Linked DNA regions of Homo sapiens: all the other regions are reported to be linked to region 4. Evidence: microRNA targets listed by miRTarBase, many of them from high-throughput screens and not tested one by one. Region 4 holds a microRNA gene; each other region holds the end of a gene's coding sequence. Distances are between the middles of the regions.
Evidence for each region. Region 4 holds the annotated microRNA hsa-miR-1301-3p (UUGCAGCUGCCUGGGAGUGACUUC, at 3,968-3,991, opposite strand). A microRNA usually pairs through its seed, bases 2 to 8, with sites in the 3' UTR of a target mRNA and lowers its output. Matches are read on the target gene's strand: a 7mer-m8 pairs with bases 2 to 8, a 7mer-A1 pairs with bases 2 to 7 and ends in A, and an 8mer does both.

Region 1: the mRNA of CHN1 is a reported target of hsa-miR-1301-3p. Seed matches in the 3' UTR shown: 7mer-m8 at 1,340-1,346.
Region 2: miRTarBase lists DCTD as a target of hsa-miR-1301-3p. The part of its 3' UTR that is shown has no 7-base or 8-base seed match.
Region 3: the mRNA of ATXN2L is a reported target of hsa-miR-1301-3p. The part of its 3' UTR that is shown has no 7-base or 8-base seed match.

The regions. Positions count from the first base shown.
Region 1 is chr2:174,794,263-174,801,381 of GRCh38, reverse strand. It overlaps CHN1 (chimerin 1), which reads left to right. Exons shown (of 13, transcript NM_001822.7): 13 at 1,095-2,573. The coding sequence ends at 1,266. Among named protein-coding and RNA genes, the nearest start is that of CHRNA1, 33 kb to the right of the region's middle. RefSeq lists enhancers at 4,064-4,925, 4,926-5,788.
Region 2 is chr4:182,885,436-182,892,554 of GRCh38, forward strand. It overlaps DCTD (dCMP deaminase), which reads right to left. Exons shown (of 6, transcript NM_001921.3): 6 at 4,656-6,042. The coding sequence ends at 5,964. Among named protein-coding and RNA genes, the nearest start is that of DCTD, 28 kb to the right of the region's middle.
Region 3 is chr16:28,835,242-28,842,360 of GRCh38, reverse strand. ATXN2L (ataxin 2 like) reads right to left here. Exons shown (of 22, transcript NM_007245.4): 20 at 6,962-7,083; 21 at 6,603-6,812; 22 at 5,129-6,428. The coding sequence ends at 6,096. Among named protein-coding and RNA genes, the nearest start is that of MIR4721, 5.2 kb to the left of the region's middle. RefSeq lists a silencer at 361-518.
Region 4 is chr2:25,324,684-25,331,802 of GRCh38, forward strand. MIR1301 (microRNA 1301) reads right to left here and starts at 4,038; the gene lies at 3,957-4,038. The region is part of intron 1 of DNMT3A (DNA methyltransferase 3 alpha); the gene reads right to left. RefSeq lists enhancers at 5,342-5,842, 5,843-6,343.

The DNA.
Region 1 (7,119 bases), 150 Mb from region 4:
AATAAAGCAAGAAGAAAGCAACTTGCAACTTGCAACTTGCAAGGCAGCTCACTTTTCCTATCTTCTTGCTCCAAAAAAAGCACTTCAAACTTGGTGACAGGATTTTCGATTATTGAATTATTGTTGCCAACACTGCAAACTGATGTAAAAAGTGGTGGAGTAAAGAAGTAAGGGATAAAGGGAGGAATGGAAAACGAAGTATTTCAGTTAATTGTGGTTTGATGTTTTCAGGCGATAGTCATGCAGCTTTACTCCCTACTTGGTCACCCTCGATCTCTATCAGTTGAAGCAAAGATTTCCAAATTACACGACCAAGTTTTAGTGGTTTTAGGTTTTCAAAGTATAAAACCAATCAGAAACAAAAATACGTATGTGGCCAAAGGCATGAGTTATATAAAAATGATATTTTAGTCACTCATGAATGTTTACATTTTTCCTCTTTAAGAGCACCATGAGTTAAAACCTTTGTTTAATGTGCTTACAACTTCGCTTATAAACTCAGGATTGCTTCCTGTTGGGATGTATTTAAGTGTTCCACACTAAAACAGAGGACTAACTCTCAAATCATATTTTCTGTGTTACTGTGCAGTGGTAAAAAGCATATAAACACATACCCTCCCTGACGATGGTGCCTACCCATTGCTTATTACTGTCGCTGCTGTTCTCTTCCTAGACACTTACTCAACTGTCTACTTGCAAAACTACTCCATAGCAAAGACAGCCAGAGTGAAGGGAGGGTGGGTGGATTAAATCAAGGTGACCCAGTTCCTTCTCAGCTATTTGCAAATGTAGGTTTAGAACTATAGGCTGTAGGTGGGCTGTGGCAGGAGGATCCATAGATAGAACTGAATCCATACAGTGCAGCACATTAACTCAGGCTTGAGCCTCAGTGATTACCACAAGTTTAAATTATCTCTTGACATAATTTACTTTAAGGAAAGTCAGTACTTTGAAATTACAGAGAAATAACCTAGTGGAAGAGTTGATAAGCGGACGCAAACTTTTATTGTGAATCTTGTTGTTTTAGTGTTCAAGCACAATGAAGAACATATGGCTTACACAAAGTCATTTATTCCTGTACTTGCATTTTTCAGAGTGACCCTCCACGAAAAGGAGAATCTTATGAATGCAGAGAACCTTGGAATCGTCTTTGGACCCACCCTTATGAGATCTCCAGAACTAGACGCCATGGCTGCATTGAATGATATACGGTATCAGAGACTGGTGGTGGAGCTGCTTATCAAAAACGAAGACATTTTATTTTAAATTTTTAATTTGAGGGGAAAAGAAATGTTTTACAGATGAAGGAATGTTTTATAGTAATTTAATTTGCTCCTGTAGCTGCATTATTTCTTGATTAGAGGTTTGGGCATATAACCAGATTAAAGTGAAGGAACTTTCTGTTGTTTTTGTAGCACCGCTCAGCTGTCTTGTAAAACAGTGAACACACGCTTTCTGGTTCTAGTAATCCTGGGTGTTTATCACGTTCAGAGAAACTCAAGCTATTGCATGATTAGCCCCCTATCTGGCAAGGAAACCCCATACAGAAGAAACAACAAACCTGCGCCTGCACCGCCTCTGCGTCCTGGGTAGTCTGTGCTTGTAATCCAGCATGTTTCACAGAGTAAGCCTGTTGTGACTTTGCTTTTGGGGTCTATGTCATTGGTTTCTGATGCTTGTACAAACACGCACACACAAATGGATAAAACAGCACCTCTGGCTGTTACATTACCATAAACCATATCACATGCCTACATTTTACAAATGATTTCTGGTTTCTCTTAGTTCTTCTCTAACATAGTACTTTCTTTCCAGCAAAAGCAAAATGTGTTTTCAGATTTGTTACTTTAATAAAGGTTATCCATACCAATAAAAAGTGTACAACACAGCATTTTCTGTTAAATTATTATTGGTTTTCAGTTGTAATTTGGTATTTTTTCTGGCATGCGTTTATTAATTTATTAAATTGGCTTTTAGAAATAAAAAATATTGATAGCTTACTTTTTTCTCATAAGAATATTCGGGAAAATGTGTTTGGCCATTTATTAAATACTGAGTACTTCTTCTGACCTCTTTTGTTTACTGTTAAAAGTGATAAGCTTCTAAAATAATCATTTAAAACTGCTTACAGTTAGAACAACCATTAATTCCATTTATTTTTCTTCTTATATTACTCTGGCAGAAATCTAGAAAATATTTTCTTGACATACTTTTTAATGAGAGGTTGGGCAGGAGTTCCTACCAGAGCTCTCAGAAGAAGAAAGAGGCTAACTAAAAAGAGTAACTTCTTCTAAACATTTGATTTGTCAAAAATATATGACATCAACATGCATTGAGCTGACAATGCTGCCTGAGAGATGAGCCCCAGAGGCCAACCTGGTGGCTGGAGAAGGGGTCTGCAGCTAGGGGCCAGGAGCCCAGATTCTGGGCCTGGTACTACCACTGGCCACCTGTGTGGCTTGGAGCCAACAACCCTCCAGAGTCTGTTTCTGTGCCTATCAGATGAACACCTTTCTAGAACGAAAGTTCCATCCTGTTTTCAAATTTTTAACAATAAAAGACACATGTTCAAACTTTGAAGATTATTCCAAAAATAATGGGAACCAATGAAAATATGGAGTGTTTTCATATTTTTGCCCCTAGGCTATAGTAGGAAATTCATAGTATGCTTTCATCAGTCTTGATATTGAGAAAAGTATGGTTTATTCAGTAGATATTCCATCTCAGCTCTCCTGTCAACCAGTCTCCTGTGAAGAACACCACTGCACTGAGCAACATCAGGTACATAGATTGATAATGCACAGAGATTTATATAGCATAGAATGTTTTTTTTTTTAATGGAGGCCACCAAAAGGCACTAAACACCAAGGCAGTGCTTTGGACACATCAAACACAGTTCGTATTTCTGAGAAATCTGATCAAAGAAATCTGTCCCTGGGTTAAGTAAACCAATTGGACTACTATGTGCTCATTGCTGAAGTCAGTTTTCTACAGAGTTTTACTTTTTTAAAAGAGAAATTCAGTTATAAAGGAGTATGCTTTATTAGAATGGATTCACTATTTTTTCCTGAGAAGAGAGATATTCAACTTTAGAGCAGGCACTTACTAGAATTAGAGGTATATTTGGAGCAGAAGGTCATAGTAAATAGGAAGCAGATGTTCAGAGAAAGTTCTGAGCAAGTCTTCAGACAAAGTTATTGCTTACTGGCTCTGAAGAATGTGCTTGGCATGTTTTTACACAGAAGGATGTGTGGTTCATACCCTCAGGATGTATAGATAGAAATAACAGCCACTTCATCTGTGAACATGCTTGGACTGTTGGGTGACACTTCCTTGAAGAAACAATTCCCAGTTGCCCAAGGAGGGTTTTGCTCAATAATTAACCAGAATCTTCTACACATATCTTTCTATGACCAGTGGGAGATTTCTTAAATCATGACTTTTTATGATGAGGCAGATGTTTCTATTTCTAACACAATCAGGAGTGAGAGAGGGAACCAATAAACCTCTCCACCATCACCCACGGATTTGGCAGCACTACAGATACTCTGCCCTGAATGCTAAGTGTCTACATCTTCTCAGTTTTCTATATGTCATTTAATTATTGCAAAACCAAAGACTTCCCTTTTACATTATTTTGTCTTTAAATGCCAGTTATACCAGCTGACCAGAAGAAGTAGTCCTTCGCTGAATTGAGATTTAAAACGTTTCTGTAATTGGAAGAATGGATATTTATCAAGATGTTTCTGGTTACTTGATGAGCTCAAATAGAGGCCTGCTGAATAAATTAGGTTCAGGGTTCCGATCATTCTTTTTTTTTTTAATTTCTTTTTGTTAGTTTTTTGTCTTTTATATCTTTTGTTTTGAGTTCTGATCATTTTAAATAAAATAACTCACAGGCACTGCCCCAAAGCTGATTATAGATTATGGTCAAGTCCACTAAAAGATCACAAAGTGTTTTTATAGCTTGATTTGCCCATAACAACTGCAAGACACTCACATTTGTCCATTAGAGCTGAGCCGAACTGGTAGTGCCCTTCGTGTATCTCATCACCATGCATCACATGCCCACTGAACATCCAGGTTGGTTCTGCCCCTTAGCTAGCATGCATTGTGGTAGAGGGGAATGCAAAGAAGTCTGGCATCAGCAAGGATCTGTCAGCCTAATTTTTAGAGATCTAGTTCTCACTTGCATTATATCTTAAAAAAAAAAAAAAAAATCTGCATCCCTTGTAGCATCTCTGCTACTCATTCCGTACACAGATCCTGTGTGCCAAGCACTGTGCTAGAACTTGGAACAAGATTGGTTCTGATTCTTGAGGAACTCATGGGATCCATTTGGACTAGTCACAGTTTAAAGTACTGTATGCCTCAGTGCTAGATGTCAATAGAAAGCTACCAGACAGCGTGGATGGTTTTGCGTTTCTTTGGGAAAAATATGAGTTCACAAGTCATACCCTTACAATTCCATTTGATACTTTGAAGTTGACCTTAAACATTCATTTAACCGATAAGGAAAACACAAATAAAATGACATCACACAGAGCCGGTGTAAGTCTGTTTGGAAAAATCAAAAGCCTAATGTTTAGCTGCCTGTGCCTTTGGGCGAGTGTCATCTGGAATGGGACACCACCACATGAAAGAGCTACAGTATCCTCTGCCATGGACTCACTAGTTCCTAACTTCCTGGCATCAGATGAGGATAGATGATGATGCTATCAGTTCCATTGCATTCTGGCATACTTACCTCATTTTAACCAATCCCATGCAGTTGATGCTCATTCTGAAACAAGGGATGGTCTCAACCTGACAGCTCAAAATCTCCCTGTGGCATATATATATTTGGTCTCTGTCCTGGCTCCTGGCCTAGAGCTCCTAAAACCCCTGGAATTTCCAGGGTGATAGGAGAGTCTTTTGTTATTTATAATGATCCTTTGTAAGTACACCAGACTATATGCTAATGAGGTGGCTTAGGCTGGGGCCCTTTGATAGCCTCACAAAGGTTATCTCTGGGCTGGCCATAGGAAAGACCAAGTGATTAGGGGCTTGGAACTTTCTCTCCATTGACCACCAGAAAGGGGAGGGAGAGGCCCAGAGATTAAGCTCTGTAACAAACAACTAGATTTGGTGAGCTTTCTGGTGGGTGAACACATGGAAGTGTCAGGAGGGGGCACACCCAGAGGGCATAGAAGCCCCCAACCCCTCTTTCCATACCTTGTCCTGTGCGTCTCTTCTATTGGGCTGTTCTGTAGTATCTTTCATAATCAACTGGTAAACATAAGCAAAGTATTTTCCTGAGTTCTGTGAACTGTTCTAGCCAATTAACAAACCAGGGGAGGAGGTTATAGGAACCCCTCATTCATAGCTCAGCACAAGTATGGGTGGTTCCCTGGGACTTGCAACTGGCATCTGAATTGGGGCAGTTTTGTGGAACTGAGTTTTTTAACTTGTAGGATCTGACACTAACTTGAGGTAGAGAGTGTCAGAACTGAATTGAATTGTAGGACACCTAGCTGGCGTCTGGAGAGTTAGAGAATTTGGTGTGGAAAAAACCCACACATCTGGTTTCAGAAGTTCTGAGTAAAAATATCCCACTCACCATTTATCTAAAACAGGCTGTGATCATCTTCACATTTCCCAAATAGTAATGAAGGAAAAAAACTTAAGTTGCTGTTTTCTCTTGGTTTTATATAATCAGGGAATTAATCCTTTAGCAATTTTAATGAAGGTTGTATTAATACTTTCATTACAAATTCAAACATTTGTTGGTTTCATCACTGTTCTGCCTTATTAAAGTCATTAGGTCTCTCAGCAAATGCTTAAATAATTTTTAAAGTATATTTCACTAGTTTTGTATCTCATACAAGGATACGACTCAATTGATATTTATACATATTGAAACCAAATCAAGAGAGAGCTAAGCTAAAAAATTATAATTCATCACTACATATTGCAAGGAAAATCCTGGTTTATGAGTTTCATTGTTCTCTACTGAAGAGATTATATTTTCATACAGTCATAGCATATTTCACAATGTAAATGTTTTCCTCTATTGCTTATTCAACTCAATAGCACAAAACACCACCAAGAGTTAAGTATAAGCGCCACGTGGCTGACCTAGTTTTTGGAGCTCTAGTGAACCCTTGGAAGTTTTGGGGGTTTTACAGTTTTTCAGATCCACTCAATTACATTGTAGCAGGAAACATGAGCATGTGAAGCTAGAAATCTTAGGATTGTTTTTTCTAATTCTGAAGCATAACCACCTAGCTGCCCATGCCACTGTGGTAAGACACAAAAAGCAGAGGAGGTCATGTTTTAGTGATTAAAATGACTCAGGAAAGGAAATGAGCAAAAAGGGCCTTCTAGAGGTAAAATACCATAAATTTGGAATGTTCTTAAAACACACCAGTCTTTGCTTGCCATTACCTCAAGCTTCGACCAGTTGGTTTCCTCTGATGTGTGTATAGGTGTAACTGGAGCACAGTCCTAGGCTTGTCCATGCAAAAAATATCCAGCCTGATGTTGGAAGCCTCTCTATATGAGTGAACATTTTCCTAAGACAGTTTTTTTTTCTTACCAATGAATATACATAGTAGGCAGGAATATTTTGTTCAAGTTCTTTAAAAACGGTATCCAAACTGTGAGAAGGTGATGACGTGGGCATATAAAAAAGATTAAGTTCAGGTCAGGTGTGGTGGCTCATGCCTCCCAACACTCTGGGAGGCCAAGGCAGGCAAATCTCTTGAGCTCAGGAGCTCAAGACCAGCCTGGGCAATATGGCGAGACCCCATCTCTACAAAAAATACAAAAATTAGCCAAGTATGGTGATGCACACCTGTAATCCCAGCTACTCAGGAGACTGAGGTGGGAGGATCGCTTGAGCCTGGGGGGCAGAGCTGCAGTAAGCCAAGATCACACTACTACACTCCAGCCTGGGCCACAGAGATCCTGTCTCAAAAATAACAATAATAATGTTAAGTTTAGCTACATCAGCAGCATTTCTGTCCTAAGACTCTAGAACCGGAAGAAGCCATTGATCAGCACTAGGAGAGAGCAGAAACTGTAGCCATGAAGCTCCAGGCCCTCAATCCATTAGTGGCCTGCTTCTGCTTCTCTGAC
Region 2 (7,119 bases), not on the chromosome of region 4:
AAAGAAAAAAACCTAGATCTTTGCAGACATCATGGACCAGCTGACCCAACTCCAGCAAATGCTTACCACCGTACTTGTTATGTGAGGAAAAATATGCTACTTGTTTAGTCACTGAGAGTCAGGGGCCTGTTACTTACAGCTACATGCATTACTAATGCCTACTTATTCAGAGGCTGGGGAAAGGCAGAATAAATCAAAAGGCTGCACACCATGCCCACCCCTGCAGAGGAAGCAATTCCAGAACAGAATGCCCATTTAAAACCTGGACCAAATGGCATGTTTAAGTTTCTAACAGTTTTCATTAACAAAAGTTAACATACAGAACTCCTACAACAGAAAGCATTCAACAGTGATTTAAGACCTGGAAAGGTCAAGAAATCCACTAATCGGATGGGTTTCAGTGGAAACATCGTCTCTGGGTGTTCTGCCAAGAGTGTCTGTTATTGCCAAATTCCTCATTCAAACCCATATATAAGAATGCTTTAACTGAAACGCAGAAGTCAAAAATAAGACATTTAAACAGTAATCTCCTGTCTCTCTTAAAGATAAATGTGCCCATTAGCCCTGGCTGCTAACAGGAAGATTTCTTTCTCTTACATTCCAGATGACAATTTTTTTCAAGCCATTCACAAAGAAATCAGCATGGAAAAAATAATTTAGGAGGTTGGCTCCTGCTCAGCTACCTCACTGAATTAAAGTGCAATCAAGTTTATAACTTTTAAGTGGAAATATTAAAAATGTGTATGAAGCCCCTCTGCATAGGGTCCCGTGCAGACATGGAGAGAAATGGTAGCCAGGCACCAAGATACACAGGATGCCACATGCGCTCTGTGGAGTTTCCAACCTCGTTAGAGCAGGACAAGATACATATGAAAAGTTAAATGACATGTTTCAGTAACAGTTCTAGACAGTAGAAGAGATATCATAAAACAGTACACGATTCATTGCCAGAAAGACAGTTGCTGACAATAACTGCTGCAGGATTTCAAAGAAGAAAAAATCACTTCAAGCTCAGGAAGGTCTGGGGAGACTTTACAGAGAGGGCGGGATCCAACTCAGTGTTGAAACATGCATGGAAACTGTGGATGGTCAAAGGGAGCACAGGAAGAGGCTCTTAAAAATGCTGGGTTTAGGCCATGCAAAGTGGCTCACGCCTGCAATCCCAGCGCTTTGGGAGGCCAAAGCAGGAGGATCACATGAGCCCAGGAGTTTGAGACCAGCTTGGGCAACACAGTGAGATCCCGTCTCTACAAAAAATAAAAAATAAATAACAATTAGCCAGGGAATTAGTGTGGAGATGCATGTCCATAGTTCCTGCTACTTGGGAGGCTGAGGTGGGTGGATCACTTGAGCCCAGGAGGTTGAGGCTGCAGTGAGATATGATCACGCCACTGCCCTCTAGCCTGAGCGACAGAGTGAGACCCTGTTTCAAAAAAAAGAAGGAAAAAAAATGTTGATTTTTAAAAAAGAAAAATCCTTCAAGGTAGGTGACTGGTGCAGGGAGGAAGGCCGCTGGGTGGCTGAGGCAGACGGGGCCAGGTTGGCGAGGCACACTGCACATTCAGGAAAGGATGGCTGCAGAAGATGGGAGCGGCCCAGGTGTCCATTGGTGCGTGAATGGCTAAACAAAAGGCAGTATGTGAACACAATGGGCGATTCTTCGGCCTTCAGATGGAAGGAAATCCTGACACAGGCTACAACCTGGATGTACCTTGAAGACATGATGCTAAGTAGCCAGTCAAAAAGAGAAAATTCTGTACGATTCCACTTATATGAGGTACTGAGAGTGGTGAAATTCATACAGAAGGTAGAATGGTGGTTGTCATTTCTGGGAAGGGGGAAGACCGAATTACTGTACAATGGGTATGGAGATTCAGTTTTGCAAGATGCAGAGCTCTGGAGATGGATGGTGGTGATGGCTGCACAACACGCATGTAATTAATACCACTGATCTTAAAAATGGCTAAGAATGGCAGCAGCCAAGCGAAGTTGTAAAGTGGGCTCCAGAGAAGAGATTGGCAGTTGGCTACCAAAAATAAGGGCAATACCTTTCTTCAGGCCCCAGGCCTGAGACCCTCGGGCTCCACACCCGAGCGGTGAGCAGACGGTATGCTTTTCTTTCATCAACAGAGAACCCTTCCCCTGATTTTCTTGGGAAATACTGAACTCATTTTAATTTAATGAAGGACTTGTAGAATTTTTTTTTTTTTTTTTGAGACAGAGTTTTGCTCTTGTTGCTCAGGCTAGAGTGCAATGGCGCGATCTTGGCTCACCGCAACCTCCACCTCCCGGGTTCAAGCAATTCTCCTGCCTCAGTCTCCTGAGTAGCTGGGATTACAGGCACACGACACCACACCTGGCTAATTTTGTGTTTTTAGTAGAGGCAGGGTTTCTCCATGTTGGTCAGGCGGGTCACGAACTCCCAACCTCAGGTGATCCGCCTGCCTCAGCCTCCCAAAGTGCTGGGATTACAAGTGCGAGCCACCACACCCGGCCAGGACTTGTAGAATTTTTTAAAGTCTTCGGCCTTGGAATCAGGGTAAGAACCCAGCTCCTGCGGACTTCGTGTCTGGTCCCTGCCCTCTCCCCAGGGTCTTACTCCAATGGATACAGACACAAAATAATAGACAACCCAATCACACAGAAAATAAAGTACAGGTGGCACCTGCACGGCTCAGGGATGCGGGTGGCAAGTTTGGGCTTCATCTAAGGAACTTGTCTAATATCTAGCTATCCACTCTGTTCTAACTCTCACCCAAGAGCCATCAGAGAACCCAATACCTGGTAGGTACTCAGTAACTATTTGAGATTCATATACCCTCACGATGAAATGGCTTTAGATTCTTCCAACAGTTCCGAAATAAAAGTCGAGCTAGCTAAAGGTATCTCCAGAACAATTCTGGGGCACCCTGCTCTAAATGTGACTCCTGGGCCCAGGGTTATTTTGCCGGCACCTCTGCAGCCAGTAATCCATAACTCTAGTCATCACGGTTCCCTGACAAGAGAGCTTGCAAAGCACCCCCACCTTGAGTTCTGGTCCTTCCCTGGAGCTTTAGACAGGCTTCCTGGCTAATGATTTGTAGAAACTACCATTTTTAGAGTGGCTTTACTTTAACAACAACAACAAAAGTGAACTATAAATATTAAAACTTCTTATCAGCCTCGCCAATGAGAAAACTCCCTCCCTGCATTCCTCAGGCCCTTTTGCAACAACCTAAATATTTTTAATCCTCAGGTAGATACAGACATTGGAAGATCAAAAATTACACCAGGGCCACAGGAACTTCAGCTCACCGGGCTTGCAAGCCTACATTTGTATTCATGAGCTCAGCTTGTATGCTTGTTCTCTTATTTTGCTTCATTTTTAATTTAGGAAAAGATGGCTAATATATTAGATCACTTTCACTGCTGGGTCTTGTCAGGCTTCAGAAGTCTTTAAGGACAGACTGCTAAAAGAGTAAAAGGGAAGAAAGCAGAAAATGTGTCAGGGAAATGGAGTTCCTATCATTTCACTCACAAATTCTGCCTTTTAAATGTAGTCCTTCTACCAACGGTTCAGTGAAAGATGGTTTCCTTATTGTCATTTATTAGCCATGACAGGCAGCAACATTGGCTCAGATACAGTCTCCCTTCACCACAATTATCTAGTAATGCCTGCGAGGCAAAAGACTGCACAAAACTCCCTCCTTCTGGAAAGCTTCTCCCCAAGGCACCAGTTCAAAGCAAACCTCTATTAACTGGAACATGAACATCTGCAGAATTCTCTGGATAGGACAATTCTACTATTCTTATAGTGATCCTAGAAACGAAGACATAATCACTCACACTCCAGTCACCAGGAGACCAGGGTCGGTTCATAGGTGGAAGCATCACAACCCCCCAGCGACAGCATCTGCCCCCAAATAAACACCCACAACTGACCTCAGTACCAGGACTCCCCTTTTAGCAAGGACCCTTCCTGTCAACCTCCCCTCAAAGACAGAAAAAGAAAAAAGTCAATTTTTTTTCACTGAAACTGAATGTAACAACCAGACAAGATATAAGATAGTATCAAAATTACATAAATTAGATGCCCTACTGGCTTATCAGCCCCTAGACATATTTATCAATGTGATGTGATGAAAATGACACACTCCATCCTAACAGGACTCACAACTCTTGTGACTTGCGGCAATAGAGAAATCTCTAATTTTCTACCTTTAAGTCTACTGATTCTTTTTTCCACATACCTTTTGTTTTATGTATTTTGGAGCAAACACAGGGCGAGGAGTTTGGAGGAGAAAAGAGAAGGAAATTTAGGAGAGAAGAGAAGAGAGACTTGGAAAGAGGATAAGGTGAGAAGTCAGCAAAGGGCAGAACTCAGGACTGAAGCCTTCCGGGAGGACAGAGGCCTGGGCCCTACCAGATAGATGGCCACACCTGGGACCAGGGGCAGGGTACACAGGAGAGAGCGTAGGGCTAGCGGCTGCCTTCGCATTTTACATAAATCTGATCCATAAAGCAGCCCCAGACATCAACCCTGGGGAACGCACACAGCTTGGGCATCTCAAATTATTCTTTGAGCATTAAAACATATGTAATATGCTTCGGAGACAATACAGAAAGGACAGGAGCAGAAAATTAAGCATATAATTATAATAACATAAAAATGTACATGCTTTGGTAGGGTAGATTTTAATAAGATTTTAATAATATTGGTAAGGAGCCAAATTACAGAATACCCTAGAATGTGGAATACAAAATCTCAGAGACAAAATAAAAACTCATGAAAATATAAGAGCACTTTAAAAAGGTAATAATCTTTAGGATAAAGAAAGCCTTTTCTCAACACAGGTACTGAGCATGTTTAATAAAAATTAAATGAGATTAAAGAGAAGGGGCACAGCCACACGCTCCCCGCCCCGCGGTGATTAGGAAGGTGATGCTTGTGTAGGTGAAAGCATGGAGCCAGGGCACAGAAGAGCTCCGAACACCAACAGTGCTGCAGTAAGCTGTCTCCACGTGGGTGGAATTTCTCACAATCCACTCACGGGATAGGAATTAATTTTCTCTCCAGTTGCAGAGGGGCCTTGTACATGAACTGCGTTGGCATGCGGAGGAGGGGCAACACATCCATGTTGGGGACCCCTCCCATCCACAGCCCCAGCTGCCACCACGGCAGGGCATGGGCTTTGGGGGCAACAAGGAGAGACAGGCTGTCTCCTCTAGGAACAACTCATTATTCAGCTAAACGAAATGGAAGAGCTCCATGTGACCAACAAACCCAAATTGAGCCAAAACAACAGGCGTCCCCACCCCCCAGAGGGATAATGTGCCACCACCCTGTGTGCAGTGGGAGAGCAGGAATGGAGGAAATATTCCTGGTTCAGTTACACTCCTCGTCTGTCAGGACAGATGTGCCACCCTATCTCGGATTCCGGGAGGGTGGCTGGGGGTTTCCCTCAACTCTGCAGCAAACACTTCAATGCTACTGTCATTTGAGGCCTAATTTTCTTCCAAGGGCACTATATGCCATGCTTCACTTGGGCCAGATGTTCAGATCAGTGTGTCTGCTCGTCCCCATTAAGAACACAACCACAATTATTTATTTGTCCTTCCAGCACATGTAGCAGTGAAGAGAGGCTGCCGGATCGCAGCAGATGACAGACAGCTGATGCTCCTCTGAAGAGCCACCAGCATCCCAGCCAGCCAGGACACAAGAAGGGGAGGCACTCTCGTTCTAGCCCTGTGCACCAGGCCACCACAGGCTCCCCTATTTTAAACCCTAAAGCAATAGTTCAAACACATGTAGATTCCATGTGACAAGAGAGACAGTAAGGAAGATTTGAGGCTTTATATTCTTTAGATGCCTACTTTTGCCATACTGGCTAGTAAGAAGTTATGTGTAACTTCAAGATGAAAGGCATTAGCAACCTCTTAGAAGACGATAATCCCAATCTTCTGGAGATTGAATGAGATGTAACTCACTGAAGCTTTTGACTCGGTCTGCTGTTAATTGAATCAAAGTCAATGACAATCTTGCTGCACTTCGGTATGAATTTCCTAAAAATAAAAACAAAATACAATTATTATCTGGTGAGTAGTGAAAGCAATTTGTTTACTTTGGCTTAACTCATATTTTCTGTGCAGAGAAAAATATGTCCTGGGATTCACTTGCTATTTTCTCTCTATAGGAGCCAATTATAGTGCACCATACCAAGAGAAACACAGAGCAGAAAAGACTAAGACAAAAAAAGATGCATGGGGTGGTGTGGTTTGTATGTTTTCAGCTCTCTGAGTTCACGAATTATTGGGGAGTCAAAGGATTTCTAACAAGTCAGCTGCACAACATGATATCCGATTACTAGTTTTCCCATCAGATTTATCTTATTTTCTAGAAAAATTTCTGCAGCCAACTTGGAGTCTCTCTAATGCAAAAAAATAGTAAATTTTCTTTTGCCGCTTATATATAGCAAAAAACGACTACCTTTAGTGAGGAGTAATTTTTCAAATTACATTCTAAAAATGCAAACATAAACCAACTTTTTTTTTTTTTTTTTTGCTCATTAACTTTTCACTTGTTCCTCATTTCTTCTACAACAATTAAAAAGAAGACATTTGGGAACAAAACAAATTCTTTTAAGAATCACTGAACAAGAGAGTATACAAATAATTTGAATTTAAAGTCTCAGAAGGCACCACGGTTGAGTTCATGAGATACACTGAGCTGTATCCCTAATGACCAGCACAAGGGGCCAGGGCACGTCACCTATGACCATGGTCCCACTGCTGCTGAACGCCAATACCATGAAGCGCTGGAAAACTTTACAGTCCCAAAGGAATTTTCTGCCATGAATCAAAGGTAGTTGAACTTACTTGCAAGTAAAATATAGCTCACAACCATTTCTTAGCAAAGATAATCATAAAAATCTGTAAGACTTCAAATCTCAATGCAAAATGTTGCTGTAAAAAGAATCCCCAGGTGGCTCACACCTGTAATCCCAGCACTTTGGGAGGCTGAGGCAGGCAGCTCATGAGGTCATCCTGGCCAACATGGTGAAACCCCGTCTCTACTGAAAGTACAAAAAAATTAGCTGGGTGTGGCAGGGGAGGCTGAGGCAGGAGAACCGCTTGAACCTG
Region 3 (7,119 bases), not on the chromosome of region 4:
TGCAGGGGTTAGGGGTGTCAGCCCTCCTCCATGCAGCCACAAATCCACATATAACTTGTTTTTGAGATGGGGCCAGCTTTGTGCAGTGGCAGTATCATAGCCAATGACTCCATGATGACTTGAAATATAATCAGCATTGGCAATTTTCGACGGTCTCTATGGGGAGGCTGAACAAAGGGAAAAAAAGAGATATAGGGTCTCACTGTCACCCAGGCTGGGTGCGGTGGCACCATCCTAGCTCACTGCAGCCTTGGACTCCTGGGCTCAACCTTGGTCTCCCCAACTGCTGGGATTAGAGGTGTAAGCTACCGTGTCTGGCTCCTCACATATAACTTGACTCCCCCAAAATGTAACTAGTAACCTGCTGCTGGCCAGAAGCCTCGCTGATAGCATACAAACACATACTTTGTGTGTTATATGTATTATATACTGTATTCTTAAAACTAGAGAGTGGCCGGGCGCGGTGGCTCACGCCTGTAATCCCAGCACTTTGGGAGATTGAGGTGGGTGGATCACAAGGTCAGGAGTTCGAGACCAGCCTGGCCAACATGGTGAAACCCTGTCTCTACTAAAAATACAAAAAAATTAGCCGGGTGTGGTGGCACATGCCTGTAATTCCAGCTACTCAGGAGGCTGAGGCAGGAGAATTGCTTGAATCCAGGAGGCGGAGGTTGCGGTGAGCTGAGATCGCGCCACTGCACTCCAGCCTGGGTGACAGAGCGAGACTCTATCTCAAAAAAAAACAAAAAAACAATAAAACTAGAGAAGGTGTTAAGAAAATCATAAGGAAAATATATTCACTATCAAGTGGAAGTGGATCATCATAAAGGCCCTCATTGTCTTCACGTTTCTTAGGAGGAGGCCAAAGGGGAGACAGGCAGACTCGGTGTAACTTGTATTTGAAAAAATTCACATGTAAGTGGATCTGTGCAGTTTGAACCCCAATCACTTAAGGGTCAACTTATTAAGTGTGTAATGTCTAAGAAAACTTGATTTAAAAATACTTGAGCCGAGGCCAGGCACGGTGGCTCACGCCTGTAATCCCAGCACTTTGGGAGGCCAAGGCAGGCAGATCACCTGAGGTCAGGAGTTCGAGACCAGCCTGGCCATTATGATGAAACCCCGTCTCTACTAAAAATACAAAAATTAGCCAGGCGTAGTGGCAGGCGCCTGTAATTCCAGCTACTTGGGAGGCTGAGGCAGGAGAATCGCTTGAACCTGGGAGGCAGAGGTTGCAGTGAGCCAAGATCACACCATTGCACTCCAGACTGGGCAACAGAGTAAGACTCCGTCTCAAAAAAAAAAATTAGCCAGGCATGGTGGCTTGCGCTTGTAGTCTCAGCTACTCAGGAGGCTGAGGCACAAGAATCACTTGAACCCGAGAGGCAGAGGATGCAGTGAGCCGAGATTGCGCCACTGCACTCCAGCCTGGGCGACAGAGTGAGACTCTGTCTCAAAAGAAAAGAAAAAGGCCGGTCGTGGTGGCTCATGCCTGTAATCCCAGCACTTTGGGAGGCCGAGGCAGGCGGATCCCTTGAGCCCAGGAGTTCCAGAGCAGCCTGAGCAACATAGGGAGACTCTGTTTCTATATAAAAAAGAAAAAATAGCCAGGCGCGGTGGCTCACGCCTGTAATCCCAGCATTTCGGGAGGCCGAGGCGGGTGGATCATGAGGTCAGAGTTCAAGACCAGCCTGGCCAAGATGGTGAAACCCCGTCTCTACTAAAAATAAAATTAGCCGGGCGTGGTGGCAGGCACCTGTAATCCCAGCTACTTGGGAGGCTGAGGCAGGAGAATCACTTGAACCAGGGAGGCGGAGGTTGCAGTGAGCCGAGATTGCGCCAATGCACTCCAGCCTGGGCAACACAGTGAGACTCCTTCTCAAAAAAAAAAAAAAAAAAAAGGAAAGAAAAAATAAATTTAAAAAAAGAAAGAAAAAGGCCACTTCTCTAATATGCAGGGAATAAACTATGAGTGAATTTCAAAAACTTGGGAGTGATGACTGGCAAGGATGCCGACACCAAGCAAAGCAAGGCTCGGCAGAGGTTAACAGGCACCCCTATCACAAATGCATCCTGACAAATGAATACACACCCAGGATGGCTAAGATGAGCTCCCAGAAGGGAGGGCTCTTGGGCCCAACTTAAGAGCTGTTTTGAGAAAATGCAAAACCTGATTTTTGACTCCAGAACAGAGGCAAACTAAGGGAAGTGGGTGAGAGAAGAGGAAGAGGGAAGAACTTTGCAAAAAGAAGTCCAATGACAGGGCAGATTTGTCTTCTCCTCAGTGCTCAAGGCAAGGCTGACGGGCTGCCAAGAGGAATTTCTGGCTGGCTGAAGGCTAAGTTCCCTTCCAACTTTGAGATTTCTGCTCAAAGATGGTAAACATACAGTAGTCTCTGCCCTTATCCCTGGTTTCAGTTATCCACTGTCAACACTGGTCTGATTATTTCTGGAATTTTTTTTTTTTTTTTTTTGAGACAGTGTCTGTCACCCAGGCTGGAGTACCGTGGCACGATCTCGGCCCACTGCAACCTCTGCATCCCGGGTTCAAGTGATTCTCCTGCCTCAGCCTTCAAGTAGCTGGGATTACAGGCACCCACCACCACACCTGGCTAACTTGTATTTTTAGTAGAGATGGCATCTCACCATGTTGGCCAACCTGATCTCGAACTCCCGACCTCAAATAATCCACCTTCCTCGGCCTCCCAAAGTATGGGATTACAGGCGTGAACCACCGCACCCAGCTGGAATTTTCTTTTTTTTTTTTTTTTTTTCCTGAGACAGAGTCTCGCTCTGTCGCCAGGCCAGAGTGCAGTGGCACGATCTCTGCTCACTGCAACCTCCACCTCCCGGGCTCAAGCCATTCTCCTGTCTCAGCCTCCCAAGTAGCTGGGCCGACAGGGATGCGCCACTATGCCCAGCTAATTTTTGTATTTTTAGTAGGCAGGGTTTCACCATGTTGGCCAGGATGGTGTCGATCTCTTGACCTCATGATCCACCCACCTCAGCCTCCCAAAGTGCTAGGATTACAGGTGTGAGCCACCGCACCTGGCCTAGAATTTTCTATTTAACAGTTCAGATTTTAAGTTGAGCACCATTCTGAGTAGTATGATGAAATCTTTTGCCATCCTGCTCCATCCATCCTGTCAGGACGTGAACCATCCCTTTGCCTGTTAGTCACTTTAGTAGCCGTGCTGGTTATCAGATTGACCGTTACAGCACTCCAATGATTGTGTTCAAGTAGCCCTGATTTACTCAGTGATGGCCCCGAAGCACAAGAGTATTGTGCCTAATTTAGAAACTAAACCTCATCATAGCTATAGGAAAAAACATAGTATACATAAGGTTTGGTACTATGGGCATCCACTGGGGATCTCAGATCACATCCCCCCCAGATGCGGGCGGACTGCTGTACAATCTGCAGTCCTTCCAGAAAGCATCAAAATGACTACTCAGCTGGGTGTGGTGGCTCACACCTGTAATCCCCAGCACTTTGGGAGGCCAAGGCAGAACTGCTTGAGCCCAGGAGTTCAAGACCAGCCTGGCCAACATAATGGGACTCTGTCTCTTAAAAAAAAAAAAAAAATTGAAAGATTACCCAGTAATACTTGCCATATTTCATAGTAGATACCTGTCTCTCCATCTACACTTCAAATATCCTGAGCCCAGCTGAAGCCTTGCAGCTCCTGCACCACCCCACATCTACCTGCTGAGTGCTCTTGGGACTCCAACCCCGCCCATTTTTAGCATCCAAGTGGCTACCACATAAAGTCCTTTTTTTTTTTTTTTTTTTTAACCTCTTTAATAACCCCTTCTCTCCACCCCACCATGTACACCTATTACCAAGTTCCAAATCTGCATATGCTGGGATTCTTCCCCAATACTGTAGCCTTCACTCTTCCTGTCCTGGTCTCAGCCAGCTTTCTCTGGCTTTGGTGAGAGCTGAAACACCCGTCTACCACTGAGCACCAGCCACTTCCTTAAAATCCTGGAAAGGTGAAATCACCTCCATTTTAGGCAAGGAAACCAAGGTCAAGTCTCCGAGAGAATTCTCAACCTCCTTGAAAAACTACCTCCTCTGGAGCCTGCTGTCATTTCCACATCCCATGCTTCAATCTTCTTGTCCCACCCATAATGCCTAATTTTGCTCTTGCTCCCCAGTAAGCCCAGTTCCCAACCAATCCTCTCCCCTCTTCTCCCACTAACAGCTTCACCTTTACAGCTCTCATCCACAGTCAGCTGCACATCCATCAGGATTTTAATTCCAATGACCATAAACATTCACCCTTCAACATAAAGAGGTGTATGTAATTCATGAGATACTCATATTAGAAATGAAACTTTGAATCACACCTTGAGATGAAGCCAAGTTCAAGATGAGAAAATAGTCACTAGACAGCTGGGTGAGCTATCTATGTAGCAGTTCCAGAGCCAGTCAGGGACAGCATCCTTGGGAACTGTGCCACTGCTGTCCCATCCTGGGAAGCGGACTCCCATCTCACGTGCTTTTAGCCATCCGGTCATCCAGAACCTCAGTCATCAACTACACAACTTCACATGAAGTCTGGAACCCACCTTCAAATGCATGGCACAGGATCCCGATCTGGCTCCCCATCATCCTAGATTTCAAAAACTGGCCACCATTGGTGTGCAATGGAGTGATCTCAGCTCACTGCAACCTCCGCTTCCTGGGTTTAAGTGATTCTCCTGCCTCAGCCTCCCAGGTAGCTGGGATTACAGGCATGTCCCACCACGCCAGGCTAATTTTTGTATTTTTAGTAGAGACAGGGTTTCACCCGAGTTCAAGTGATTCTCCTGCCTCAGCCTCCCAAGTAGCTGGAATTACAGGCATGTCCCACCACATCTGGCTAATTTTTGTATTTTTAGTACAGATGGGGTTTCACCAAGTTGGCCAGGATGGTCTCCATCTCTTGACCTGGTGATCTGCCCACCTCAGCCTCCCAAAGTGCTGGGATTACAGGCGTGAGCCACCATGGCTGGCCACTGGACACGATTTTTACATGGAGGTGAAGGAACAGGTCACAATGCAGCACCTATCAATGCCACAAAAGACTGACAGCTGTCACCCCACTCTAGTCTCCAAGGAGGAAACTCCAGGCAGGTTAAGTTAGTTTAAAATTTTATTTTTTTTATTTATTTTTTAATATTTTTATGTAATAAAAAGTAAAAGTCCTTGTCCAGCCATCCTCGTGGGGCATCTGTCTGTCTCTCACACAGGTCACTCAAGTTAATGGGAAAGAAAGAACAGGGGGCCCAAGTCTGAAGTTATAAATAATAGAAAATAAAAGATCTTCCGTCTCCAGCGGGGGAATAGATGAGAGGATGGGAGGGCAAGACTGGGTGGGGACGGGCAGGGGCAGAGCAGGAACCCCCCACCCCTGCTGGACCCTGGCCCTGCCCTCTGTGAGGCCCCTCCCATTCAAGGTGCTTGGCAGGAATTCCCCAGCTCCCCTGGGGAACGGGGGGATGGGGGGCTGGGAGTGGTCCGAGCTGCTGGGGGAAGAGACATAGATCACTCTTCCCTCCACTCATGGAGGTCTCAGGTCGCGGCCAGGACAATCTTCAGTTCCCCGGGGGGTGGAAGGGGAGCTGCTGGGAGGGATGAGATTGAACTGGTTGGAGGGGAAAGAGAAGAGAGCAGGAGCATTAGAACCCAAGCAGCTGTCCCTTCCTCCAATGCCGTCCAGTGGGGGCGTGGGGGTGTGTCTGGGAAGGAGCGGCCTCCTCAAGGTGTCTCGGGGGCTGTCAGAAGCACAGGTCAATCGCTGTTTCCCAGTAAGCCAGAGCCCTCACTCATGTGCCCAGCTCAGCCCCCCACACCCCAGTCTGGCCCTGTCTGCTGCACTGACCTTACCTCGGCTAAGTCAGGAGACAGTCGGGGTCACTGAGAGCTGGGGAGGCAGTGGGGAGGGGGGCTGCTGGATCACAACTGAGCGAGGACGGAGGGAAGCAAAGGACAGAGCCAGGAGCAAGCCCCTGGCGGCGGCGACTGTGGCTTCTGCCCACCCTACATACTTCACAGACAGGTGCAGGTCGGCGGGCGCCCTGTGGGACAGCCCTGCCTCCAAGACCCCTCACTCCCCACCCAGAACCCGTGCATCCTGCCCCACCTGCAGCCCCTCAGCTCTTCCATGCCAAATTCCCCCAGCTAATGAGAACTCACGAATCCTGTCATCGGCTCCTCCTGGAAATCCAGGCGCCTGGCCAGGCTGCTCACCTTGGGGGTGTCCGATGTAGGGGTAGGGTGAGGGTGTGGAAGCTGAGAGTGCAGGCACCCCACTCTGGGGCACCGCGCCTTGGGGGGGCCCCCCATGACTCTGGGGTGGGTGCAGCAGCATCACCTGGGGCGGGTGGGGAGCCCCAGGGTGAGGGGGCGGGGCTGCTGTGATTCCAGTTTGGACATGGGCCTGTGGAAAACAAAAAAGTAGCCGGGAAGACCACAGAATCCTGAAACAGACTCTGAGAGCCAGAGTTAGGGAGCACTATGGCAAGGGTGGCACCAGGGACTTGGCAATGGGATGGTCCCCATGGCAGACGGGCCCTGGCAAACAGACCCAGAAGTGGGACAGCTGGGCTCTTACCTGGGTAACATGGGCCATGTTGGTGAAGCCGTGGGGCAGCTGCTGGTGGTGGATGGCATACACAGCGGCTGGCTGGGGGAAGCTGCTCTGAGGGGACTGGGCAGAAGGTCCCGGTGGCAGAGAGGGCGGCGTGCCTGTCAGGGCCCCTGGGTGGTACAGATTCTGCTGTGGCTGTCCACTGCCCAAGTGTGGGGCCTGCCCCGCCTGATGCTGCTGGGGAGGGGAAGGTTGAGTGCCACACAGGCCAGCAACTCGCTGGCCCCCAGTCCTCGCCACTCAGAAATGACCCCTAGCTCTATCCCTTCTTCTGGCCACCCATTCCTGCACCAGGACCACTCAGCACCCCCCATGGCAGGCACCTGGACAGGACTGGGGGCCGCATGCTGGGACTGCGGCTGGCTTCCAGTAGGCGTGGTAGCCGGCTGCGGCTGGTGGGCATGGAGCTGTGTGGCATGGTGTGGGTAGGACTGGTGAACAGTGGCTGCAGCAGGAAAGAGGGAGAACCAGTGCTGAGCAC
Region 4 (7,119 bases):
AGATGTCTATCTGTCAACTCTTCCCCCTCCTGTCACAACCTCTCTTGGTCATAAGACTGGGGATGGATAAGGAGGAGGGAGAGGGAGGGGGGTCTTGGTGCCATTTTCCAGTGAGATGGCCATCACCATTCCATTGCCCTGACTTTCAGAAACATTACTTGCACCCAAACTACCAGCTGTCCATAGAATACCAAAAGCCACTGGTGACAGGCCAGCAGTCCTGCCCTCTGCAAAGCTGATTTATCTGGCTCTAGAGTCACAATAAGACGGCTTGTGGCTCTCACACCACTCTCGAGGCCATGGCACCACCAGCACTGGCACCACCAGCACTGGCACCACCAGCAGGAGCACTTATGATCACACCAAACCTGCTGCCACTACGGCGGCCACATGGGAGTCTGAGTCAGACTGCTTTGCTCACACTAATGGTTGCCATGACACAGCCCCAAAAGTGAGCGGGGGGGGGATTTATACCTAAAATAGATGCTGTTAAGGAGCTGAAGTTGTTCTCAGGAGCCAAAATGAGCCAACACAGACTTCCGTAAGGCAGCACCGATTTCCAAGTGCTGCAAGCCAGGAGAAGCCCTGTCTAGGGGTCACACGTGCTGTGGGTCAGATGGGCTTCCCACGGCCTGGGAGTCAGGGGCACAGGGTGGCACAGAGTCCATGTGAGAATCAGACACATGGTCCTGGATGGGGTCTGGCAGTGACCAGCATGGGTCTGATTTTATCATCCACAGCGGAAGCGGCCCACGGTCATCTGCATGTTTCTCTACTTTTCCAACCTTCTCTACAGCATGGTCCACAGCTGCCAGCTCCAGAGCCTCTATCACTTAGTCCCCTGCGCGTGGCCCTGTTTCCCCACCCCACAACTCTAAAACCTTCTGGGGATGCTGACCTCGTCCTCGGGGGAGAGTGCTCCCACCAGGGACATATTATAATGCTTTCCCTGGGAGAGAAGACACACACACCCACTTGGCTTTCTCGAACTCCTTACGCCACTGAACTGACAGTGGAAAAAAGGAGTTATGCCACTGTCTGGAGTGATTGATCCTAGTTACCAAGGAGAAAACTGGATTGCTGATCAGCCACAGAGCCAAGCAAGACTGTGTCTGGAACCCAGCGAATTCTCTCAGGCACCTCTTAAGAACGTCCATGCCCAAAGGAAGGCTGAATGGAAAGTTATGGTAACAACAACAAAAGCGGGATAACTAAGGATTCAGGTCCTTTGGGAATGAGGGTTTGGGTTACTCCACCAAGTAAAAGAAGCATGACCTGCTAAGGCTCTGGCTGAGTGTGGAGGAAACACAGAATGGGATAAGAAGACAATGAAGCCAGGTAGCAAGTGTAAAGTGTAGCCTTGTGAACAAATGCAGAAACCAGGCCTCTAGTGGTTTTGCACATTTTCTATTAACTTGATATATATGTGTGTGTGTGTGTGTGTGTGTGTGTGTGTGTGTGTGTGTGTGGTGTGTTTGCAATATGGTAACCATTTTCTTCTTTTTTTCTCCTTCCCATTCTTTTCTATACAAGTTGTTGACAGTTAGCTTTATAATGTAGTCTTTAGGTAACAGAATATTCAGTGAGACTGTGACTGACTTTGAGAAGTTATTGTAGCCAGGGATTGGTAGAATGATGGTTGGGGCTCTCTGGGCAAAAGGGTGAGAATTTCATAAGAAGGATAACTATCTTGATAGGTAGACATCCAGTTGTTTGTTTTTGTATGGGAGTTCAGATGTTGTAGAAAGGTGCAAATGGAAGCTGTGCAGCCAAAGGGGTAAACTGTGCCAGTTATCAGTTTATTCGCCCATCATTGCCTGTGCTGTGAAGATGGAGCTGGGCCCTTTAACTACTTTTCCTTTGTCAGCTGGCACAACTGTGGAGGGCACTGAAGAGGCATTGAAGGAGGAGGTGGGTTTCCTTTCTAGACCCAGTGTGCTCTTGTTGGGTTCCTGCATTGTATACAACTTCTCTAGCAGCCAGATCTTGCTGCATGGGCGCTTCCCAGCATCAGGGTCTTGCCAGATATGAAGCTTCCCAGCACCCAGCTCCTGTGCTGCTGCAGCTTCTCCAGCATGCAGCTTTCCAGTGCCCAGCTCCTGCAGGAGTGCCAGGCTGTTGCAATGCAGACAGCTTCTCCAGCACCTGGCTCCAGCAACACGTCAGTCAGGAGTACCCAACAGCCAGGAGCTTCTCCCAGCACTCCCCTGGGAAAACGTAGCAGCGGTGTGCTTCCAGCAAGATACCTCCCACAAACAACTTTCCTTGGGACCCAAAAAGATGGATTTCCAGTAAATTCCAGAGGGTGGATTTCCAGCAAGTTCTGCCAACATGGCATTACAGAGACGTTGCCATCCAGGGAGCCATCGCCACACCCTCTCCATCAAGGTGTGGATCTCAACCCTGCGGGGCCTCTTCCTTGGGCACTCTGTGGCAACCCTAGAGGTAGGGGCTGTTCTCATATCTATTATTTTTGTATTCTTTGGAGTTATTTTTACTTCTTACTAGCCAATTCCTCATTATTCCAATCCAATTAGAGTTAATAATTCGTTATGTGAAACTTTCCTTGTTCCAATCACCATGTGGTTTCTGTCTTCTGAATGGACCCTGACTGATACAGTCACCCGCGGCCCCAAAGGGCTTTTTTCCATCCTCATGGCCCTTGAGCTCAATTCAACATCCTGGCCAGCTAATCACTCCCTGCTTCAAGCACTCACTCAACAGCCATTTCTTGAGTGCCATTGTGGAGCCGGGCCCTGGAGTGAAAGGAGACCCCTGCTTCTGGAGCTCACCAGCAACTGCCTTCTGTGTGTTCTCTCCCAGCCATGACTCCATCTGGCTCCTTGCTTCTGGGTCTCCAGCCTCAGATTCTGCAGCTTTGTCTCTGGGGCTGTCCGGGAGTCTTGATCCCACTTCTGCACGGTGGGTGCTCCTCAAAGGTCATGTTCTACCTTCAGCTTCTCTCTAAATGCTCTTCCTCTAAGACACCTGGGCATAAGTTAACATACGCCTCCTACTGCCAGGGGCTCCAGCTCTATTTATTTTCATCCCAACTGGATGACTTGCAGTCCCTAAAATCCTACTCTTCCAGAACATGCTTCTTTCAGAGCCGGCTCTATTTTCTGGTTTTTCCCTCTATGTGGAAGTAACATTCCCCTCCCTTCAGCTGCCTAAGTCCCAAACCCTGGAGAAAACTCAGGTCCCACCTTTCCCCTGGGTCCTCACATCCAGCAGGTACCTGGTCCTTGGGCTTCTCTCGTCCCCCTATTCCCTCCAGGCCCTTTGTACCTCTTGTGTCTGTGGCACAATAACCTGGTAGATGCCCTGGAGCGGGTCCACCTGCCTCTGGCATCTCTACCTCCCACCCCACCCTATCAGCAAGGATTGCCCACACATGGCTCCCTCTATGAAAACCTATGACACCTCATGACAATTTTAAAAAGTTGATTGTGAATGTACTAAAACCATCGAACTGTACACTTATATGGGTGAACTGTATGGAATGTGAATTATATCTTAAAGCTATTATTTTTAAAAATCCGGTGATGCCAAAGATTTGCACACGTGGTAAAATATACGCTCTGGCCTGGTCTCACCAGGGCTGGCTACAACGCAGCCTCCGCCCACTGCTCTGGCCGTGCCCCCACCTCTCCCAGCTGCATCATTCCAGGCCCGGCTGCTGTCCCGGAATGACACCCCTGGCTCCCACCCTCTCCCACAGGGCCCACTCAGCTCCTCTCTCCCAGTCCTTCAACCCAACATCTCTCCTCCCCCAAAACACCGTCCCCTTCTCCTCGACCACCCACCCAGGGGTCATTGAGTGTTCCATGCGTATATAGATGTGTCTGATTTCTCAAAGAGACGAGGTCAGAGTTCATGCGTTGTATCTTGCTGCCCGTCCCCCCCGCCCACAGCTTGTCCCCCGCAACCCCGTTCCGGGTGACCCTGGAGGCAGAGAGGACTGTGTGAAGTCACTCCCAGGCAGCTGCAACATCCCCAGCACAGTGCTGCGGTGCCTAGAGCGACCCCCCACAATCCCCATTCTAGGGGTCGCTTGGCAGAGCCCCCAAGGCACTGCGTCAGTGGAAAGGCTGTTTGCAGGAGCTCCGAGGGCAGAACATACACCTGCTGTGGGTCTGCAGGCTCACCTGCCCCAGATCCCCAAGGTGAAGGGGTTGGTGAGGGCCTAGGCTATCAGTGAACCACAGGAATCAGGGGGGCTGAGTCCTTGTCTGGCCTGTGACCACCCTCTCCCCACACCGTCCATGGCCACAGTCCCCCAACCCCACTTCCTAAACCAGCTCCCTCTTGGGTCAAAACCAGGAGGTCCCCCAAAGGGTCTTCAGGGCTTGGGAGCGGCTGTTGGAGCTCGTCCCCCACCACCCCAACCAATTCAGCAGGAAGGGAGCTCGCTGCTCTCAGATTTCCCACAGGGCCGCCTTTCTCCTCATCGTCTGTCCCAACAAAAACAAACCATTTGTGGAGGGGGCCGAGGGAGGGAGAAGAGCCCAGGGTTCTGAGCAGCACATCTCAGAACCATGGGCCCTGCCTCCAGCAGTCCCTGCCTCAAACCCTGGCTCTGTCACTGAGAGATTCGGGCCTCAGTTTCCCAAGTTGTAAAGCGGGGTGAGAAAGAGTCCCTATTTCATAAGTCTATTTTAAGATAGGAGGGAATCTGAGTCAAGTGTTTAACATAGGGCCTGGCACGTGGCAGGTACTCAATAAATGATCATTTAAAAATTATTATGTGCTTGATCAGAAAGAAAGGCAAGCCATATGTTCTTAGGAAACCTAGACTCTGGCTTCAGACCACACTTCAGAGTGGCTTGTGCTCACTCCTAGGAACGGCTGCTGTGCCAGGCTCCCCCTCCCAGCTGATGCCCCTAAGTCTCCAGCCCAGGCCCCGTGCCACTAGAATGGGGAATGTATTTACCAGAGAATGTCTACCTGCCACTGTGGCCTCAGGAGTCTCTCACAGTCATGCAGACCCCACACACACACACACACACACACACACACACACACACACAGACACACAGATACAAACACACATAGATGCACACACAGAGATATACCTAGACAAATGCAGAGATGACCCAGGCGCACAGGTTCACACACGCACACAGCCCCCCTCATGCTGCACACGCTGGGGCACCTGGAGCCAGAGGATGCTGGGCGGGCCTTCCGACACAGGCACACGCGTTGCACATTTCACCTACTGTATGGGCCAAAGAGGCATTTGGAAACCAGCTTGGGAACCTCATAACCATTCATAACATTGTTCTGAGAGAAAACACAAAACATTGCCCTATAAACAAACATTTGCAATAGAATTCCTCCAAAAGCTTGGAAATGCCTGTACTAGAAAACTAACAGAGCAAGAAGAGAAAAACCACATAAACTTGGTTTGCCTCTGCAAAATTAATACCAATTACAAAAACATTTATGTGAACTGCTTACCATTTACACCTAATTACCATGCAGCACAATTATGCATATCATTAAGGGTATGCCAGATTAATTATGCTGTACATTTCATTTGATTACAACGCCACACCCTGAGTTCATGTATGCCCCACTTCCAGGGGGCCAGTCCTGCAGCATGGCTGCTTGCACAGGTCTGCACAAACCAGAGAAACGTGGATTTCCACACTCGGATGGACCGCAGCCCCCACCCCACCCCCAGCCAGAGACAGCCCGACTCCCACCCGGCCTTCTTGGCAGCATCAACAAGAGCCCCGCTGCGAAGCCATCTTCCCAGCAGATCCTCCAGAATGCAGAGATGCTTCAAAGGTCTCCCCAGGGGTGTGGCTGCATGTCACAAGGCCACCATACAGCCCAAGGGCCATCATGTACGGCCCTCACAGAGGAAGCGGCCCTCTCTGCCATCTCCTGAGGTCTGGCTCGGAAAGCAGGGCAGCCTAGCCCATGTCCAGGCCAAGTCCTTCCCAAGCTCATCTCCCAGACCCACCAGGGCTCTGTGCCCCTATCCCCTGGCACACTGAGCCAGCTACAGGGCAAGGTCCCAGCTGTGGTCCCACTGGGTCCTGCAACATCCCCCCTGTCCCCCATGCCCTCTGCTCTCCCGGACAGCTCTGCACAGACCCTCCCTCCCCTTATTAAAAAGAAAACAGGAACTGACCCCCAATAACTCCCATTTAGCTCAGTAGATGCTCTTCAAATACACTGGGTGAACCAGGTTTGCAGGGAATAATTGGGAACAAGAGAGTCAATAGAACATGACGAATGGACCTTCCCAGGAAGGGGGAACTCAAAACTTGGAGTTTTGGAGGGAACAGGAGGAAACAGGCTTCTTGGGAGGCAAAGAACCAGAGGAAGTGCAGAAGCGAGGGAGGGAAGGAAAAAATATCCAGGTTTAGTCCAAGAAGCAATGCTCAAAACAAACAACACCAGCCTGTGAAGTTATGTCCATTTTACAGATGGTAAAACTGAGCCTAAGAAAGGTTGAGTGATCTTCCAATGACACGCAGCAAGGAGGTGGCAGGGGTGAGGTGAAACCATCATCTGTCCAGTCCCCAGCCTGGTGGCCCCAGCACGATGCCACACTGCTCCTGGCCTCTATCTAAATTCAATGATGCTGACATGGCTCACGTCATTTTTTGAGAAATTCTTTGGAAATAGCCTTCCACATTATCCTTCACATAACACACATAAGCCTCCTTTCTATTTTAGAGGAACAGTTTTTGCTTCTTTTCTGTTTGCTTTCCAAAAATGCTGTCCCCAGCTTGTCCCTCCTATCTCTCTCCGCAGACCTGCCTCTGAATGGAGAGTGACGGAAAGGCTGGACAGCTTGACATCAACTTCCAGCCCACCCAAAGATTCTCAGACGGTGATGATGCTCGCCGCAGGTCCTGGGTGGAGGGCCAGGGTCTAGGCCTTGCAGCTCATCTTTTGGGGAAATCACTGTGAAGTAGAGGCGCTAACTCATCAGCATTCCCAATGCAAGGGTGCGAGCACCTTCCTCAAAATCTTCCTTCAAACATCTGCAGGGGTCGTACCAGTTACAGACTGAAATGCACCTGCCTTTCTCATCCATCGCACAAGGCACCCCGCCTCCAGGCCTTATGACTCAGGCTCCAGCCTCCTTCTGCAAGCCTG